Regions from separate parts of the Homo sapiens genome. Here region 1 is linked to region 2. The links come from fine-mapping of genetic effects on gene expression. A gene starts in region 2. The other region holds a variant in brackets. All regions are shown on one strand. Distances are between the middles of the regions.

Region 1 (4,380 bases), 94 kb after region 2:
ATGGGGCTGGGACAGTGGGACAGGGCACGATGACAGCCCCAGTGGGGAGGGCACTGAGACCCCCACCCCACCGTGACGCCGAGAACCACCCCCGCGCCCACCGACACACACATGGGGGCCACAGCAGGGGACTGCTCCCCACTGCTCACCAGGCTGCGAGCCATCCAGCCCGCCCCACGACACGCACACACGGTTTCATCCCCACACGCATGTCTCTTTCTACCCCCTCTCTCCCTCCCGAGTTCTCTGGCTCTCGGGGCAGGTGGGGCCATGCAACGAACAAAGGGCACGACTCCGCCCATGCATGCGCCACAGGGGAACACGGTCAGCCAAGGAGGAAGGACATGGCGGCGTCTCCGTGGCTTCGCTCTTCTCTGTTAATGATCCCTCCGCAGGTTCACCTACCGAAACTTTGTTACGACTTTTACTTCCTCTAGATAGTCAAGTTCGACTGTCTTCTCAGCGTTCCGCCAGGGCAGTGGGCTGACCCAGCGGGCTGATCCGAGGGCCTCACTAAACCATCCAATCAGGAGTAGCGACTGCAGTGTGTACAAAGGGCAGGGACTTCATGCAAGCTTATGACCAGCACTTACTGGGAATTCCTCATTCATGGGGAAAAATTGCAATCCCTGATCACCATCGCCAATGAGGTTCAACAGGTTACCCACATCTGCCACATAGGGTAGGCACACGCTGAGCCAGTCAGTGTAGCGCGCGTGCAGCCCTGGACATTTAAGGGCATCACAGACCTGTTATTGCTCAATCTCAGGTGGCTGAACGCCACTTGTCCCTCTAAGAAGTTGGGGGATGCCGACCGCTCCAGGGTCACATAACTAGTTGGCATGCCAGAGTCTCGTTCGTTATTGGAATTAGCCAGACAAATCACTCCAGCAACTAAGGCCATGCACCACCACCCGTGGAATCGAGAAAGAGCTATCAATCTGTCAATCCTGTCCGTGTCCAGGCTGGGTGAGTTTTCCCATGTTGAGTCAAATTAAGCTGCAGGCTCCACTCCTGGTGGTGCCCTTCTGTCAATTCCTTTAAGTTTCAGCTTTGCAACCATACTCCCCTCGGAACCCAAAAACCCAAAGACTGGTTTCTTGGAAGCTGCCCAGCGGGTCATGGGAATAACACCGCCACATCGCCAGTTGGCATCGTTTATGGTCGGAATTACAACGGTATCTGATCGTCTTCGAACCTCCGACTTTCGTTCTTGATTAATGAAAACATTCTTGGCAAATGCTTTCGCTCTGGTCTAAACTGCCAGTCCAAGAATTTCACCTCTAGCGGTGCAATATGAATGCCCCCGGCCGTCCCTCTTAATCATGGCCTCAGTTCCGAAAACCAACAAAATAGAACTGTGGTCCTATTCCATTATTCCAAGCTGCAGTATCCAGGCGGCTTGGGCCTGCTTTGAACACTCTAATTTTTTCAAAGTAAGTGCTTCGGGCCACAGGACACTCAGCTAAGAGCATCCAGGGGGCACCGAGAGGCAAGAAGCAGGGACGGGCTGTGGCTCGCTAGCCCACCCGCTCCCAAGATTCAACTACGAGCTTTTTAACTGCAACAACTTTAATATACGCTATTGGAGCTGGAATTACCACGGCTGCTGGCACCAGACTTGCCCTCCAATTGATCCTCATTAAAAGATTTAAAGTGCACTCATTCCAATTACAGGGCCTAGAAAGAGTCCTGTATTGTTATTTTTCGTCACTACCTCCCCGTGTCAGGAGTGGGTAATTTGAGTGTCTGCTGCCTTCCTTGAATGTGGTAGCCATTTCTCAGGCTCCTTCTCCAGAATTGAACCCTGATTCCCTGTCACCCGTGGTCACCATGATAGGCACAGCGACTACCATAGAAAGTTGATAGGGCAGACATTCGAATGGGTCATCGCTGCCACGGGGGGCGTGCGATTGGCCCGAGGTTATCCAGAAGCACCAAAGCTGGCGGCACCCGACCCCCCGGCCGGGGACGGAGAGGGGCTGACTGGGTTGGTTTTGATCTGATAAATGCACGCATCTTCCCTGTGAAGGGGGTCAGTGCCCTTCAGCATGTAATAGCTCTAGAATTACCACAGTTTTCCAAGTAGGAGAGGAGCCAGCGACCAAAAGAACCATAACTGATTTAATGAGCCATTCGCAGTTTTACTGTACCAGCCCTGCGTACTTAGACATGTATGGCTTAATCTTTGAGACAAGCATATGGTTCTGATAGGATCAACCAGGTAGGTAGAAAGCGGCCTCTGGGACTCGCGAGGATGAGCCCGGCGTCCCAGTTGCGAGATTGGGCGCGGCAGGGCGGGCGATGGGGCGTGGGGGAGGGAGGGAGCAGCTTGGGGTGGTGGGAGGGGGGTGGTGGGGCGGCGAACCGGACATCCCATCCACCCACAGGACACAAAACCCCCCGACGGGCTCACCACTCCCGACCCTTCGTGCCCATGTGCGAGGAGGCCGACCGCCCGACCCGTGTGCGGCAGCCGCGAGGGACCGGCGGCCACTCATGCGCGGAGGGCGCGGGGCGGCCCCGACGTTTGGGCAGCGAAGGAGAGGCGGACCGCGGTGCCTGGGGTCTCACCGCCAGTGGCCTCGG[G/A]GCATGAAGGCGGCCCCTCGCGGCACCTGGAGCGGCCGACTGGCCTTCGGCGGGCCTGCGGCTTCCCCACCGCCGCCACTGTCGCGGCCAGCCCCCTGAACCCTCTTCCCTGCACACACTGCTGGCCGACCCCAAACCCTCCGGGTGTCCACCAGGCCCACTCGGGGTGCCGCCGACCTGGTCCCGAAGGCGCACGCCCGGGGACACGGACAACGGGCCAACCAGTGGCTAGCGGCGGCGCCCCACCAGGCAGAGCCGGGTTTGGTCCCAGACGGGGCCACCACAGCCTAAGGCGGTGAGCCGCTCGGGGAGAGAGGATCCGCGGGCAGGGTGGGGGGCACAGACAGGCAAGGCCAGGGACCGCGAGGGCAAGGGCACCTGGGAGCCCGCAGAGGGGCGGCTCGGGGAGAAACCTCAGGCACGGCCGGGCCACCAGGAAAACACGGCCACGGGATCCCACCGCCACAGACAGGAGGGAGGTACCGCAGCGACCCGCCTAGGATGCCGGACGGCCCTCGGCACCACCGAGACCCGCCTCATGAGCCCCAGGTCCCGCCATCAGGACCCCGAGGTGACCTCAGCCACAAACCTAACGCCAGGGCCACGTTGCTCGTTTCTCATCCATCCTCCAACCCGGTCAAGCTCCAGGAGACCGGCATGCCCCCCACTTGGGACGCTTCCCAGGGCCAGGCGGCCCAACCCCGTGCCACGCAAACACGGTCGTCGGCACCGGTCGCTGCTCTGCAGGGGAGCGGGCAGAGAGCCGGCTCACAGCGGAACGGGTCACAAGCCGGACTGAACGCCAGGCACAGCCACCGCTCACGCAGCCTCCCAACCGCTAGGACGCCGGCCCGGCCCGGCGGGATTCTCCCCTGACTCGGAAGGGGAAGGCGCGGGCCACACAGTAGGCGACGAGCTTCCCTGGGTCCCCACCGCGGAGGCTGGCGGAACCCTTGCTTTCCCCCACTCACCTCATCAAGGGGGAAGTGGAGGAGGGTCCTCTGCAAGCCAGTCGCCACGGCAGCGCTACCATAACGCAAAGAGAGGCGGCAGGCCGGGGGATCCGGTACCCCAAAGGCACACCTCTCAGATCGCTAGAGAAGGCTTTCTCACCGAGGGTGGGTCACACTCCCCACACGCCAGTCGCCCCTCGTCGGGCCCGCAGAGGCGCTCAGGGACGCCTGGGGAAGGGAGGGGGCCTGCGGTACCAGGAAAAATCTGCGTGCGGCAACCTTGAGCCTTCGCGGTCTGGGCAGGGGGCCTGGCCGCTGCGCGTGCGCGCAATCCCCGAAGGGCCCCCTAGTCCACCAGCCTCCTTTCTCCCAGGCAAAGCACCTCCAAGTAAACCCACACACAACCTGTCGGAGGCAGAACGGTAGCCCCTCGGCGGCCGGCCGGCGCACGCGTCATCTGCCCCAGCCCACCGCAATAGCTCACACGGCCCGTGCGCAGCCGCCAGAGGGGAGCACGGGACCTGCGCTCGCCAGATCAGGCGGCACCCTTCCCCGCGTGGGAGGGGCGCGTCTCACTCAACCGCCTCGACCCCCACACCAACGAGCTCCCTCAGGACCCACTGGTGGACATCGCGGCGGTGACCGGAGGAGGGGGCGCTGGGGGTGGGAACCACACACCACCACTCGACCTCGGGCACCTGAGGGATAAGCTGGGGGGTGAAGGGGAGGAGCCGGGCGTGGTAGGCTCACGCCTGTCATCCCCGCACTTTGGGAGGCGAGGGAAGGTGGATCCCTCGATCCAGGCCTTGGCAACATGGTGAAACCTCGTCTCTAAAAA
Region 2 (4,380 bases):
GCATTTCACTTATGAAACTAATTCTTTCCCTACTAGTATAACCTGTGAGCATTATCAAGTTCTAAATTCTTAGATATTTGGGTGTTTCTGGATTTTCTACTCTGTTGTATTCATTTACCTGTCTTTTCAGCTGTTATCAAATAATTTGTGATTTATTTATTTATTTTTGAGACAGAGTCTCACTGTCTCCCAGGCTAGAGTGCAGTGATGGGATCTCAGCTCACTGCAACCTCCGCCTCCCAGTTTCAAGCGATTCTCCCTCCTCAGCCTCCCGAGTAGATGGGCTTACAGGCTCCCGACATCCTGCCTGGCTAATTTTTGTATTTTTGTAGATTTGAGGTTTCACTATATTGGCCAGGCTAGTCTTGAAATCCTGACCTCAGGTGATCCACCCGCCTTGGCCGCCCGAAGTGCTGGGACTACAGGCATGAGCCACGACGCCTGGCCCTTTTTTTTTTTTTTTTTCAAATTTTATTTATTTATTTATTTATTATTATTATTTTGAGACGGAGTCTTGCTCTGTCACCCAGGCTGGAGTGCAGTGGTGCGATCTCGGCTCACTCCAAGCTCTGCCTTCCAGGTTCACACCATTCTCCTGACTCAGCCTCCCAAGTATCTGGGACTACAGGCGCCCACCACCACGCCCGGCTAATTTTTTGTATTTTTAGTAGAGACCGTGTTAGCCAGGATGGTCTCGATCTCCTGACCTCATGATCCACCCACCTCGGCCTCCCAAAGTGCTGGGATTACAGGCATGATCCACCGCGCCTGGCCATGGCCCATTTTGTGCAAATTAATAGCACATTTTGAAATCTAGAAGGGCAAGACTTTTCTACTCCGTTACAAAATGTTTTAAATGTCACCACAATAGTAAAAGACAGCGTGTGTAATTTTAAAAATGTTAAAACGTTGATAACTTTATTTGGTTTATGTAAAACTGATAAAGAACTTGCATCTTCAGAAAAATGAGTCTTCTTAAATTCGAAAACATAAACCATCTTCCCACCTCAAAGTTACCTTCTAAGGTCCCTCAGCAAAGAATATATTTACATAGACATTCATTGATATTGAAATGGATACTGGACTTTATCCAAAAAATTTTTAGCCAAGAAGTTAATATATTATGGGAATTATTTCATTATGCACCATTTCATAATGTATCTAACATCTTTTAAAACCTGTACATTAAAAGTAAAACCCTGTATGTACTTAATTTTATAAGTTAAATCACTTTAAAATTCTCTACACAGTGCTCTGTGAGAGGAAGTGGGAGTGAAGGAGAAAGCAGCTAAAGTTTGGGGTTGATTTTAAGGTGGCCTGTGCCCTCCGCCCTGCAGGGCGCCCTCATCCAAGGCCTGGGGGACCTGCCCGGGAAGAAGGCCAAGACCTCGGGGCCCAGGACGGCCGCCCCGCTGCCCGCCACTCCTCCACCTGCTCCCCTCGTCCCCAGGACCCCCAGGCCCCACTCTGAAGGGGCGATCCTCCCACAGCCTCCTCCTCCTCCTGCAGCCCCGGCTCAGGCAGGGCCTGGTACCTCTTCTTCGCATCTCTTATGTTCAGGTCCATTGTCGTCTTCTTCATCATCCTCTCCAGCTTCCAGGCTTGGCCCCGGGAGGCAGCTTTGTGGATCTTCCTGAGATCCCCATGGTGAATCACGTAAGAGTCGTTGTTGGTGTAGACCAGCTGACTGAAGGGGCTCGGGCGCTCTGGGCCCGTCTGGCCCTTGACAGGGGCGGCAGAGAGCCTCTCCATGGCTGCAGCCACCTGCTAGAGAGAGCCCGTGCCTCCCGCTGCTCGCCCTTCCCCAGTCCCCGCCGCTCGCCCTCGCCCTTCTTCAGTCCCTGCATCCGCCCTGACAAGACTAGAAATCTCAGTCGGGCCAAGCTTTTGGACACTCCAACCTCTCCCGGGAGAAAATGGCTGCGCAAAACCGTTAGGCAGCTGAGCAGAACCGTTAGGCACCTGAGCAGAACCTTTAGGCAGCTGAGCAGAACCGTTAGGCAACAGCGCATGCGCAACTCAGCAGACCTGGGAGACACGCGAGGCAGGAAACCGCCCTGGCTGCGCTTCGCCCAGCACGGCGTGCAGGTGGCACCTGCTACTGAGGCGCTATCGGGCTGGCGGGGCTCCCTGGAGCGGAACGTGGGGGGCTCCCTGCCACATGGCCTGCTTGACAGAGCTGCCCCTGTCCCCTCCTCAACCTGAGATCCAGGAGCTGGGCCCTGGCGCTGGGCATCGTGCAGCCTCCAGGGTGGCGCTGAGCGTCGGTTCCCGGCCTCTTGCAGCCAGGGACCCATCCCTGACTTAGGCGCCTGGAGGCTTCTGGCCCAAGTATCCGCGCGGCTGGTGGCGCTGGCAGGGTCAGGGTTGCAGCCTCTCCTGCCACGTGCCATGTTCAGGTGGCAGCTGCAGCTGAGCCCATGGTAGAGGCTACAGGGTTGGGCCCAGACCGCTGAGCATCGCCGAGTACATCGCCCTTCCACCCGGGGCTCTGCTCTTCCTCGGCTCGCGCTGGCAGCGCAGGCTTGCCACCACTGGGCCCTGTACAGCTGCGGCGATGAGGCTTTGCGGCAGGTTCCCACGATCCTGCAACTGAGGTCCCACTGCCTGACTTAGGCGCAGTGGCGGTGTCCGACCCTGGGGTTCGCCTGCTGGTGGCGCGGACAGGTTCGGGGGTTGCCACCGCTGCTGCCACCTTCAAATGCCAGCTGCAGCTGAGCCCACGGTAGAGGCTGCAGGGCTGGGCCCGACGGCCTGAGGGTAGCCGTGTGGCACACGCCCTCCCACTCTAGGCCCTGCTCTTCCTTGGCTCGCGCCCTGAGCGCTGGTTTGCAGGCTCTGGGCACTGTGCAGTCGCCAGGATGCGGCTGAGCAGCAGGTTCAGCGCCGCCTGGGCCCAGAGGGGAAGAGGGGAGTTTGGGGTTGCTTGGCCGTATTTGCCTGTGCGCCAAGTGCAGGTAGCGGCTACAGTTCTGACAGGCACGGATGGCGGGTCCCGTTTAGAGGGCTTCAAGGTTCCTGAGAGCGCCCGCTGCCAGGCCTCAGGATCCCTTCCTCGTTGACCAGCATCTGGAGTATGGCAGTGGCGCTGGGTCATCTGCAGCCCTCCTGGATGGGGCTGAGCTGCAGTTCTCACCCTTGGACTGAGAGGGAAACTCGGCTGAGTGGAGCAGATGGAGAAACAGTTAAATTGAACTTATCTATAAAGACTTCCAGGCTGGGTGCAGGACCTCATGCCTGTACTTACAGCACTTTGGGAGACCGAGATAGGAGGATCACTTGATCCCAGGAGTTTGAGACCAGCTTAGACAACACAGGGAAACTTTATCTCTATAAAAATAAAACCAATCAGCCAGGCATGGTGGTGCATGCCTGTGGCCCCAGCTACTTGGGAGATTGATTGTGGCAGGATCACTTGGGCCTGGGAGTTCGTGGGTACAGTAAACTGATTGTGCCACAAACAAGGAATGAGAGGTCCTGTTGCTCCCCATCCTTGACAGCATTTGACCTTTTCAGTCTTCTGGATTTTGGTTATTGTTTGATTGTTTGTGCCGCTGCACTCCAAGCCTGGGCAACAGAGACTCTCTCTCAAAATAAATAAATGAAAGACTTCTAGTCACTATATCTTATCTATGTCGAATTGTTTACACATCTAGCTTGAAGAATTAAAACCCACAGAGCCCTCTGATTATGTGATAGGGACCATGTGATTAAAGTGGGTGACCATGTTCTTGCCTCCAGGGGGCCCAAGTCAAGGGATGGGTCCCCAGCTGCAGGAGGGTGGGAATGGATGCTCAGCACCACCCCGGAGGCTACACAATGCCCAGCCCCAGGGCCCAACTCCTGGATCCTGGATCATGAACAAAAACCCAAGAATTGAAGACTTGAGTGTTAGATATGCTCATTTCTGCTGGGATATCATTGCTTCTAGACCGTCTTAGTTTACAGAGCAAAGAAATAAATGTGTGTATACAAAGCTGTGTATACACATAACTATAAATATTTCTAAATGTAATGTGTGTAAGTGTTAGTTCATACTGATGTCTACGACTCAATTCTTTTATCACATGATCATTCCGGCCTTCTCCCCTTGCTTACATGTAACCTCCCACTTTAATAATGAGAAACCAGGCTCCTGTCATTTGTCATCCGTTTGCTTAACTGTCTAGTTCCAATATACATTCATTCTCTATCAATATCAGAATCGCTATCCCATTTCCTGTAGGAGACAGCTATACCAACCAGATCACATGAGTTGTTTGCAGTTTCTCTTCCTTTCAGTCTTCATGCATTTTCTTTGTTTCTTTTTCTTTTTCTTTTTTTTTTTTTTTTTTTTTTTTAAGATGGAGTTCTGCTCTTCTTGCCTTCTTGCCCAGGCTG

Alleles and levels. Alleles are on the strand shown, and positions count from the first base shown. SD is a standard deviation of normalised expression in the study named.
In carriers of allele G in region 1, the expression in putamen of the gene that starts at base 1,999 in region 2 tends to be higher than with A alone (large effect, 1.3 SD a copy in GTEx).

What was found. PIP is the estimated chance that this variant, and not a neighbour inherited with it, causes the effect. A credible set is the group of variants that fine-mapping cannot tell apart.
Region 1: its variant is the best candidate, but not a certain one, in a credible set for the expression of ANKRD30BL in putamen (GTEx, PIP 0.80).

What each region holds. Positions count from the first base shown.
Region 1 is chr2:132,253,969-132,258,348 of GRCh38, forward strand. MIR663B (microRNA 663b) reads right to left here and starts at 3,112; the gene lies at 2,998-3,112. It also overlaps a transcript of ANKRD30BL not described here, the pseudogene LOC107985804 and the pseudogene LOC110467533. RefSeq lists a silencer at 1,128-1,422. The variant G/A (reference allele first, on the strand shown) is at 2,590.
Region 2 is chr2:132,159,954-132,164,333 of GRCh38, forward strand. It overlaps ANKRD30BL (ankyrin repeat domain 30B like), which reads right to left and starts at 1,999. Exons shown (of 6, transcript NM_001358416.1): 1 at 1,535-1,999. The coding sequence starts at 1,752. RefSeq lists an enhancer at 2,292-2,792.